Linked DNA regions of Homo sapiens: region 1 is linked to region 2. The links come from fine-mapping of genetic effects on gene expression. A gene starts in region 2. The other region holds a variant in brackets. All regions are shown on one strand. Distances are from middle to middle.

Region 1 (5,380 bases), 29 kb before region 2:
GAACATGAAGAAAGAGAGCTCCCCACATGGGCTCTGGACTCAAGACTGAGCGCATTTTTTGAAGGGTCTCACCGTGTCACCCAGGCTAGGGTATAGTGGCATGATCATAGCCCCACTGCAGCCTCCAACTCCTCGGTTCAAGTCATCCTCCTGCCTCAGTTTCCCAGGGTGGGACTACAGGCATGTGCCACCATGCCTGGATAACTTAAAACAATTTTTTTTTTTTTTGTAGAATGGCTGCATTTGAAGCCTGCTCAGGTACCCACTAGCTCTGTGAGCTGGTAAATTAAACTTCCTGTCCTTCTGTTTTCTCATTTTTAAAAGGAGGCTAGGAAAAGCTTCTACCTCATACCTCTTAGCAAAGTGCTTGGAATGCAGTATGCATTCAAAAAATGCTTATCATTAGCTATTACTATCTTTAGTCAATATTTATTGAAAAGTTAGTAAACAGAAGAAAGTTACAACATTTTATCATAAAGACTTAGCTACTGTCCATGACCCCATTGGAGATGCAGATAGGACACCAGAGTTAGACAACAGGTTGCTATCATTTCAGTGGTAGAGTTAGGTCAGAAAATGGACAAGGAAGAGCAAAAATTCAGACCAGTTTAATATAAACAAAGTGAAGATCTCTGTAGAAAGCTGTGGTAGGAGGAGAAGTAAGCAATAGTAAGAATGAAAAAGTTGGCCAAAGTTAGGCTTTTGAAATTAATTTCATGATCCATGTTCAATTCTCTTCTTCTAGGCATAGAAAATAGAATATTAATGATCTCTGTATTGTATTTATCTTCCAAGCAGGAATGCAAGTAGGCATATTGGTCAGGAGAGACAGGGTTATGCTGCAGTAACAAACAGCCCACAAAGCTTAGTGGATTATAGCAAAGGACTATTTACTGCTCAGACTACATAGCCATCCCTGGCATTCCTAGGGTTCTGGTCTATGTCTTTCAATCTGGGTTGTAGGCTGATGGGGTTGCTACCTTCTCAAGTGCTATGGATCATTATGGCAGAGGAAGAGAGCATTGGCAATTAAGTGCTGCAGGCCAGATATGACACATGGCACAACTTATCAGCTAGAACTAGTCACATGACTCTCACTCAATCACATGAAAACCAAGAAAGACACAATCTTACCATGTACCCAGGAGGTGAACAAGCTGGAAATGTTTGTCAAATAGCAGCAATGACTACCATTGCCTGCCATTAGGGTCACAAAATGTTTGTCTCCCCCAGGCAAAATCCACTTACTTACTGCCTAAGGAAGACAGCCTAAAAGTCCTACCCAGTCCTGGTATCAAGCTGAAATGCTAGGGTCTCTTGTGGTGTGTAACAGGGCAGTTTTCACCTTAGGGAGCGGCATGTTCTAGTCTCCACATCAGGTGTGAATGTGGATCCTTTCCTTTCTGAGACTTAGGCTCCAAAAAGATAAGTAATCGTTTCTTTCCCACAAGACAAGAAAAGATTCATTTGAAGTAGGACAACTGCAATCAATATTCTCATTCAGAAAGGGGGAAGACTAGGGAAGCACAGCAGTCACTGGTCCATAACGACTCTGAAATCCTGTGAAACACAATTCGACCCTCACTTAGCTGCCTGGGAGTAGATCCCAGCCCACCGTTCTCTGCTTATGGATTGTCCCTCTGGAGGGTCTTCTTTCTGTTGCCCTCCTTGCTCCTATCAGAGATGGGAATTGCAGATGATATTGAGCAGCTTTCTTGGCCGGCTTCTTGTCCATGATAATTTAGGGGCCCAACGGTACATTACATTTTGAAAAGTCGTGAATGGTTTCGTTCAGGTCATGGTTCCTTTGGCAGGATGACTGTCTGAAAATCTTCTTAGGCTTTTTCCTATGTGTTTCGGGCAGATCTATGTACTGATAGCCAATAACCACACCTATGGTTACAGTTGTTATCCTATTCTAAAGGAGCCATTGTATGTCGTGCTATGGGATAGAGGCAGATAATTTGTCTTTTGGGTTTTTAAGTCTC[T/C]GAATTGCAGAAATCCATATTCAAAACTGATGTAGAGACTAGCACATGTCACTCCTTAATATAAAAACTACTACGCACTGCTAGAGAACCTAGCATTTCAGCTTGATACCAGGACTGGGTAGGACTTTGGGGTTATCTTCCTTAGGGAGTAGGTAAGTGTATTTTGCCTGGGGGAGCCATGGTTCTTCTCAACTTGAACCTAACAGCAATAATTTGGGTATATATATTATTTGTGGGATGTTACAGCTTTAGTCTTGTTTTTTCTCTCGCTCTTACTTGAGCCAGTTTGCCCAGTTTGAATGATTTTTTGAAGCCATAACTTCAATTAAACTTTTGCCCTAAATGACTTATTCCATTCAGAGGAACTGACAATGGACATGACTGCCCTGTGCTTGATTTGTTCCATGGCATGAGCTGAAGCACTCATCAGTCTTTCTTGTATAAAGGTCTTTTAAGTTTTGTTTACTTCTTTGGGGAATGAGAAGCAGCTGTCTCTGTCTACACTGAAAATCCCCACATTTCTGGACTCTCTCCTGTCCATTTCATCTCTGCTTTCTGGCCAAATCTTTTCTGAACTCATCAATATCTTGCACTACATTGTCAGATGCAGCCAGCAGTGGCCACCATACAATATAACAAGCTGTTTTTCAACCATCTTCCTAGATATGCAGGATTTTAGGGATATAATCTGCTTTCTAAGTTATCACAGATGACAGTTTTCAGAATATTTTTCCATTTGTAACATGGATTGCCTGCAATGGCCTCCTATAAAATTTCTTCAATACCTGTCATCTGGCCACAGAACCAATGTCACAAGTATTTTTTTAATTTTTAAAATTTTATTTATTTATTTTTTTGAGACGGAGTCTCACTCTGTTGCCAGGCTGGAGTGCCGTGGTGCAATCTCAGCTCACTGCAACCTCCGCCTCCCAGGTTCAAGCGATTCTCCTGCCTTAGCCTCCTGTGTAGCTGGGACAACAAGTGTGTACCACCACACCCAGCTAATTTTTGTATTTTTAGAAATTGGGTTTCACCATGTTGGCTGGGATAGTCTCGATCTCTTGACCTTGTGATCTGCCCACCACGGCCTCCCAAAGTGCTGGGATTACAGGTGTGAGCCACCATGCCTGGCCATGTCACAGGTTTTAACTTTTTACTTTTGGCAGCTTCTTACTTCAGTTTGGGTAGACTTGATTCTGCTATGGGAAGAAATCAATCCCTGAATACCAGAGGATTAGAGCAATAAGGGTTTGTTTCTCACTTATGCTACTATTGCTTCGGCTGGGGGCCAAGCTTCCTGCCACCTTACCCTGTAATGCAGCTCACTCTGACAGAGCAGCCACCATCTTGAACAAAGCTGGTCATTGTGGCTGGCGTGAAGAAAGCTCTGGGGGCTTTCCCATGAGGAATTAAATATTTTGGTTCAGAAGTGACACATACCACTTCTGCTTATAACTCACTGTCCAGAACTACTTGCCTGGTACCACACAGCCACAAGTGAGTGAGACAGTAAAATTCTCCATGTTCCTGAAAAGTAGAGAGCTGGAGACATTTGGAAAACAGCATTAATGACTATCACAGGAGGAGAATTGGATGAAGATGTAGGCTGCAAACTTAGGATACTAACAAGCTCTCTTGGGATCCTCCCCGAAAGGATAAGGAGTTCGTTATAGATTTATTTCTTGGCATGGATAGTAATTTCCTGAGGCTGTTGATTGGTGTGGCACAGATGTCTAATGCATTTCTTTTCTAATATACAGCTTCACCCAAGCGAAAGCTGTTAGATTTTTCTCTACTGAATTATGGAACATCATCATCACCATCACTACTTTGTAACTGACATCATCGTCCTCATTAAAAATTGGACTAAGCAGCTAATTATAAATAGTGCTTTTGTATAGCACATGTGTTTTCATTTGTCCCCCTGACTCCATCCACTTGGCCACAGGGGAAGCCCAGGAGGAGGGAAATGGCCACAGTGCATCCAGAGACGAAATGAATAGAAGGGAACTTCAGGTCAAAGCGTTGTGCTATCAAGTGTTGGCAGGGAACATCAATGAGTTTGTGGAACCAGTGGGTGCTACTGCAGGAAATTAACCCTCGAAGTTCAAGATATCTGACTTCTTTTTAATGTAACTCTCAGATGACCAAATTTTTGGTGTGTGTGTGTGTGTGTGTGTGTGTGTGTGTAGAAGGAGGGGAACAAAAGGAAAACAGCAAAAATTGACTGCAAAGTATAGAATTACCCGGTCATCCATTTTTCTCCCCTTCTTCCCCAGGATTCAATGCTGTCTTCTCTCTCCAGCAGAAAAAGTAGGAGAAGGTTAAGAGAAGGAGTAAACATGACCCAGACCCTGGGGAAAGGGGTGAATGAGGGGACCAGAGAAGGGAGTTGGGCCAGGCAGAACGCTGTGTTTGGACAGAGGAGCTTCCACTTGGAACACGCTGAAGAACCAAAGCTCGAGGGCAGAGCCTTGCCCAGAGTGAGATGGTGAGAGGAGGGACACGGGCTCAGACTCATCACCCCTGCTTCTCACTGGCTCTGAGTGGTTTGGATTCCACAGTGGAAAGCTCAAGAGTGGGGTGGGTCATTCTAGGGAGGGTGTTCCGTGCTTGTGCACAAGTGTTGTGTTCTCTCAGTAAGAGGTAAGGGAGCTGACGACTCGCCACCCTGTCCTCAGAGCAGGGGCCTGTGGGTGACAGGACCATGAGGAGAACCATTTTCAGAGGTTACACAGAGAAAGAGGAAAACTTCAGGGATCGTATTACCAGAATGATGACAAGTGCACACACACACACACACACACACAGCAAAATAAAAATGTAAAGAAGCCTGGAAGACAGATCATTTATGTCATTTATATACCTGGAATAGGTACATTTTAGAACCTAGGGCAGAGGTCAGAATATAAATGGTTATCACACAATGCTTCACATTATCTGTGCTCATCTTGTGGGCACATACGTCCATTCTTAGGTGGTTCTTCCCATGGATGCCCCCCACGTACTCCTGACCTGTTGCAGATCATGTGTTCCACTGGAAGGCCAGCGTGGGCCCAGGAGGATGGGGCCCCTGGGGTCTAGTCCTGGTTGTTGGTTTCCAGGAGCTCTCCATCTCTTGGCTTTCCTTTGACTTCACCTACAACCCCTCAGCCTCCTATGCTGGCTGCCCTTCCTCCTGACCTTGACCGGTAGATTGAAGACTGCTGTGAAGGACTTGGTCCTGGTCATTTCTCCTCGTTGTCCATATTCTGTTTCTGCAGAAGACCTTGGTGCCATGAATGTATATATTTCTAGATGTCTTAAATTCATAAATCGTAAGTTTCTTTTTCATATTCCAGACCTAAATAAATAACTGCCTCCTTGATGTCTTAATTTGCATGTATAATTTC
Region 2 (5,380 bases):
AGGTTGCTTCTAATGAACGGTGCTACAACGAACACTTGTAGTGTAGATATTTGTTCACATTTATGACTCCTTCCTTGGCTATACTCCTAAAAGAGTCAAGAGATGTAAACAAAGTGAGCAATTAATTTTCTAGGTATCACCTTTCTCACCTATAGTAAAACAACAACAGAAACAACAATCACTGATAGCAGCGGACACTCACATAGCATCTTGTTTGCCAGGCATGTCTCTAAGGGCTTATGTGTACCAGCGCATTTAATCGTCCCAGTTGCCCCGTTATTATCTCCATTTCACAGAAGTAGCTTGCCCAGAGTCACACACAGCCAGTAAGTGGGGTGGTAGGATTTCAGCCTGGGCAGTCTGGCTCCAGAGTCGTGCTCTTATCTGCTAAACTAGTGTTGCCCCTGTGGGATGAAAGAGCTAAAATGAAGAATCCCTGGGGTCCTGTTACCTGGGAACATCGCTAATGTAGCATGGAATCCTGCAAATAATGCTAGAACGGAGTAATGCAGTTGCCTGATAAGAGTTCACCGGCTCCTGTCATCCTCTTCGTCCTCCCATTTGTGTGTTTGACGAGCTTGGGGTCTCTGTGTTTGTGAGTGCATGTGCATGGATATGCAAGTGTTTGTATAATTTTATGAATGGAACAGAGTCCGCAGTGTGTGAAGCAAGAAAGCCTGAACAATCTATTGACACAATAAAGCACTCATAATTGATGCTGTTAGTTATAGATAACTCATCATCGTTTCCTTTTTATCTTAAGGTTCCCAGGCACGTTGGCTGGGAAATGTGTCATTTTATAATTGGAGTTTCACCCCGGTGGAGCAGGAATAGGATGGGATTTGGCTGTCTACTGTAACCCCATCCCCCCAAAGCATGTCTGTACTTACCGTCTGAGGAGGGTGCTTCCCCTCCTTGAGCTGATTTGCCTGTGCTGTCCAGAAGCATTGCTGGATATGATTATCCAGTAGAAAAGGAGCTAATCGACAAACTTTTCACTGGCATAACGTGTCCACATTGCTCTTATTGCTCGCTAAATATAGAGGTTGCCAGGACCCCTTGAAATTTTGATTCAGAAGATCTGGGAGAAGCCTGAGAATATGCCTTTTTAAAAAACATGTGCTCTGAGTGATCACCTTCATGGATTTTGGGGAAGTCTTAGGTAGCAGGTCTCAACCTTCATAGGATATCAGCATCACCAGATTCTTTTGAAAAAAGTACCACTTCCTGTCCTTCTGCTCACTGCCTGCCCTAATTTGAATAACTGATCTAGGGTGGTTTCCAAGTTCAGGATTTAAAAAAAAAAAAGTCTCTAGAGGTTCTTGTGTGCAGCCATAGTTGGGTACCTCCAGCCCAAGAAGTTCTGCTGATAATATCGCACCTATACATTTAATTGCACTTCACATTTTACAACTCTCTTTCACCATTGAACATCGTAACAATTCACTAAGGTCAGTAAAGCAGGCATTATTATATTGTCCTTGGCCGAGAGAGGTTGACTGAATTGCCCGAGGCTGCACAGCTTCTCCCTCAGTCAGCAGCAGCTGTTCCCTACTTGGCTCATGGCCAGTCCTGCCAGTTCTTTTGGAAGGGGCAGCCTCCACTCCCCTGAGACTCACAGGATGAAATCAATTGCCTCTCCTAGTGCTGATGCTCGCGAGGCTCTTTCTTCCCCTTCTCAGCCACATCTTTTCTACTGCAGCCACTCTTCCTGCTCAGAGGGCCTCTCTCTGAAAGGTGCAGTTGCGTTCCCCTCCCATGCTCCATCCCACTTAACGGTTAGGTCATGGCACTGAGGGATGGACAGCTTGGAGCCTGGACAGTCCACATCCTCCACCGTGGTCTGAGGACAGAGACGTGCTGCCCCCCAGCTCCAGCCCCTTCGATGCCATCCTGCAGAAAGCACTGTGCACGCTGCATGGCAGGAGCCAGTAAAGTTCCACACCCCCATCCCAAATTCTCACATCCACCACCAAAGCTTCCTTCACCCCTGCATCCCACCGCGGATAACCTGAAAGCCCACCTGAGTCCTTCCTGGGAGGCGGCTGTGTGGGGCTGGAGCCCCCTGCAGTGGTGAGTCCCACTCCGGACACCTGGCCAATGGGAGCTTAACAAGGTGGCCAGCGAAAGAGAAACAGAACCCGGTAACGGCATCTGCCCCTTCCGCCATCCTCCACCCCGCAACCCGCTGCGGGCTCAAAATCTCTCCTCATTCAAACCGAGGACTTTTGTTTCTCTTTACTGTTCCTCTCCTTGTCCAGACCTTTTCCTTCACACAGGCTGTATCTTGGAGAGGCTCCCAGTGACTGTAGACTTCCTGTGTCAGAATCCTGCAGCCTCTGTCCCTGGGCTGCTTGGGCGGAGTGGGAGGCTGCGGGAGAAGGCGGGGTTTGCCTTGCAGGCAATGCGGGCAGGGGCGCTGCACCCAGGGAAGAGTTCCAAATGCTGATTCTCCCCATGGCCTTTACCTACCTACCTATTCAGCAGCCTTGCAACTGAGACGAAGCCACCCCCTAGCAGACTTTTGCAGGATATCGTTCACTTTCCTCTCTCAGGCCCTGCCCACCACGGGTTGTTGGTTTTGTGAGTTGGTGTGGGGGAGTCAGCAGGGTCCTCAGTGACTTTTGATCTTTCAGCGCTGACTTTCAGGAAAGGTAAGCTCTCTGCCAACAAAGCTGGTCTCCGCTGTGCCTCCTCCTCTTATACAACAACCCTAAGTGGCTTTCCTGCCAGGTGAGAGGATTTGCAAGGACTGCGGAGGAATATGGGACCGACGAGCTCTCCTTTCTCAAAACAGAGGGAGCCTTGGTGCAGATGCACAAAGTGGTCCTTGAAGTTGCATGTGGCCCGGAGCGGCTGGCTTGGTGGATCTTTACTGTTCTGGTTGGGCATTGTCAGGCAGCTATCAGAGGGCCCAAGAGTCCTTCACAATAACTCGTTATCACCCACAAGCAGCCAGCCAAGTTAGTACCTGCTTGACCCCGTCCTGCTGACAGTGGATTGGACCAGGGTTGAGCCTGAGAGCCAGCCAGCATGAGCCTCTTTCCTAGAAACCGTTAGTCAGGAAAAAAACGTTCTGGTTCAGTCTGGGCTAGCCTCTCTATGGGAGAGATGGAAAACCTCCCAGCCATGGGAGCTGGAAGGGGTCGGATCCATCCTCCAGCTCCGCTTTCTCCTTTTGTAAATGCCAAAAAGAATTGGGGTCCTGAGTGATGACTTGATTGGCCCAAGGCCACGTGGCTACTATGACTACTTTATAACAGAGCTGGATTTTGGAGTCCAGTGTGTTAATTCACTTACTCCCTTGGCTAAGACACGGAGCTTCTGAAAATAATCTCTTATGAGAGCTTCCATTCAGCTCAGACTTTGAAGAAATGATAGTTCTTGCATACTATATACAGAGAGAGCACAGGTCTCAGTATCAGACTGATCTGGGCTCAAACCCTGGCTCTCCGAGTCACTAGTATTGAGATCTTGGGCACATTTCTCATACACCTTGTGTTCCTCCAGTATAAAATGGGGATCACTCTGGTCTCACAGAAACATGGTGAGGGTGTTCTATTGAGTAGAAGATACGCTTAGCAAATACTCATTGCTAAATAAAACAAGGCTTCCTGGTCAAAATGAGTAATAGCTCTCTCCTTCCTAGTGCTCTGATTCTGAAGATGGTGTAGTTGTGGAATTATTTAGTGCCCTCATGTTTGTGGTTGGGACCAGAGAACAGGGGCCTTTCTTTTGCTTTTCTTCAGACCCCGAGAGCCTGGGTGTCATCAGTCAGCCCACGACCATCCCTTGTGGGCTTGGGAAAACTCAGACAGAGAGGGAAATGTGAGACTCTGGCAATGTGAAAAAAACAAGTACCTCTCTATTACTTATTTTCTAGTCTTGTGAAGTTTGTTCAACCTACAACCCAGCATTGATTCAAGGCCTCCTCTGTGACCCCACCCCAGCGGCAGTGCGCCCACTGGGTAAGATAAAGTGAGAGGTGCAGGGACGCACAGGTAGAAGGAGATCCTTCAGGCCTGGTCACATCTGAGGTTATGGGGCGGTGGCCTGATACTCCTGAGACAATACGCTTTTTGATACTCTTTTGAGGGTGGCTGCAGAGGACATTGGCTTGTACCTCTGGCCCCTCTGTTCATTCTTCACCTCATAGAATGAACATTTGCAGGCCTGCATTGAGACACTGTTTTGTCCTTGTTATGTGCTTCATGCCCTAAATCACCACATCAGAATTCAATTCCTAGTCACTCACCTGTCTCCAGAACAAATCCCTATGGAATATCCATCTTTCTAGACCCAGAGAGGGTCCTGCCTCTCTCAACCCTCCCTCTCTCCTCATGACTCGAAATCCTAAATCTCCTTCAAAGACCACCTAGCTCATATCCAGCTCTTCATGAAGTCTTTATGTGGACTGGACCACTCCTTTTGCACTCAGCAGAGGTTACCTTGTGTTGCTGTACATTTTTAGACTGTAAGAGTCCTTTCTAGAGATACATGTGCCACCAAACCCTCACCTCAGGGGGGTCAACAACCTAGTTGAAAATACGTCTTAAGTGTAGTTGGGCTGCCATTTTCTTGAAGGCAGGGCCCTGTCTCATCGTTTTTATTCCTCAGAGCACAATATCAGGGAACTATAGGCTGCATGTAACAGTGGCATTAAAAAAAGAGAATATTTTTTATCTCATATGAAATGGAGTCTTGAGGAAGGACAGCTTCAGGATTCGTAATGCATCAGTTAGCTATTGTGACATAGCTAACCAATTAAAAACCGAAAAGTTTGAAACACCACCATTACTTTATAGCTCCCAATTCAAGCAGGTCAGCAATTTTGGCTGGGCTCAGCTGGGCAGCTCTTCTGGTCTCACCTGTGCTTCCTCATGCATCTGTGATCCCTCATGCATCTGTGGTCATCTCTAGGTTGATCAGGTGGTGCTGCTGGGGGTTGTGTGGCTGTTGGCCAGGGAGCCTCAGTATCCTGCCCATGTTGCTCCCATGTCTCTAGCAGGGCAGCCTGGAGTATCCCTCTTGAGACGAGATTTGGAGTTGGTGCAGTCACTTCTGCTGCAGTGCTGTTGACTAAGACTCAGTAATGAGGAAATAGACTCTGCCTCTTCGTGGGAGGAGCTTCAAGGTCACATTGCCAAGGGCAGGTGGAGCATTGGAAGCATTTTTTGTAGTGGGTCTGCCATAGCCAATGATGTTAGGGCTTGAAGAAGTCTGTTCTTAGGACTTGCTTGGCTTTTTGCCTCATGCTCACAGATGGCAGCAGCAGTTCCAAGCATCATGTCCTCACACAACAGTGTGTGAAGGCAGGAAGGGTTGAGCCTAAGGATGAGGAAAACTTCCCCAGCTGTCTCCTATGAGCCTTTCCTTAGGC

What was found.
Region 1: its variant is fine-mapped to the expression of KCNA6-AS1 in aorta (GTEx, PIP above 0.99).

The regions. Positions count from the first base shown.
Region 1 is chr12:4,799,658-4,805,037 of GRCh38, forward strand. It overlaps KCNA6-AS1 (KCNA6 antisense RNA 1), which reads right to left. Exons shown (of 3, transcript NR_199077.1): 3 at 4,828-5,380. Among named protein-coding and RNA genes, the nearest start is that of KCNA6, 7.0 kb to the right of the region's middle. The variant T/C (reference allele first, on the strand shown) is at 1,989.
Region 2 is chr12:4,828,407-4,833,786 of GRCh38, forward strand. It overlaps KCNA6-AS1 (KCNA6 antisense RNA 1), which reads right to left and starts at 2,365. Exons shown (of 3, transcript NR_199077.1): 1 at 2,024-2,365. It also overlaps a transcript of KCNA6 not described here. RefSeq lists enhancers at 1,004-1,193, 1,254-1,413, 1,843-2,344.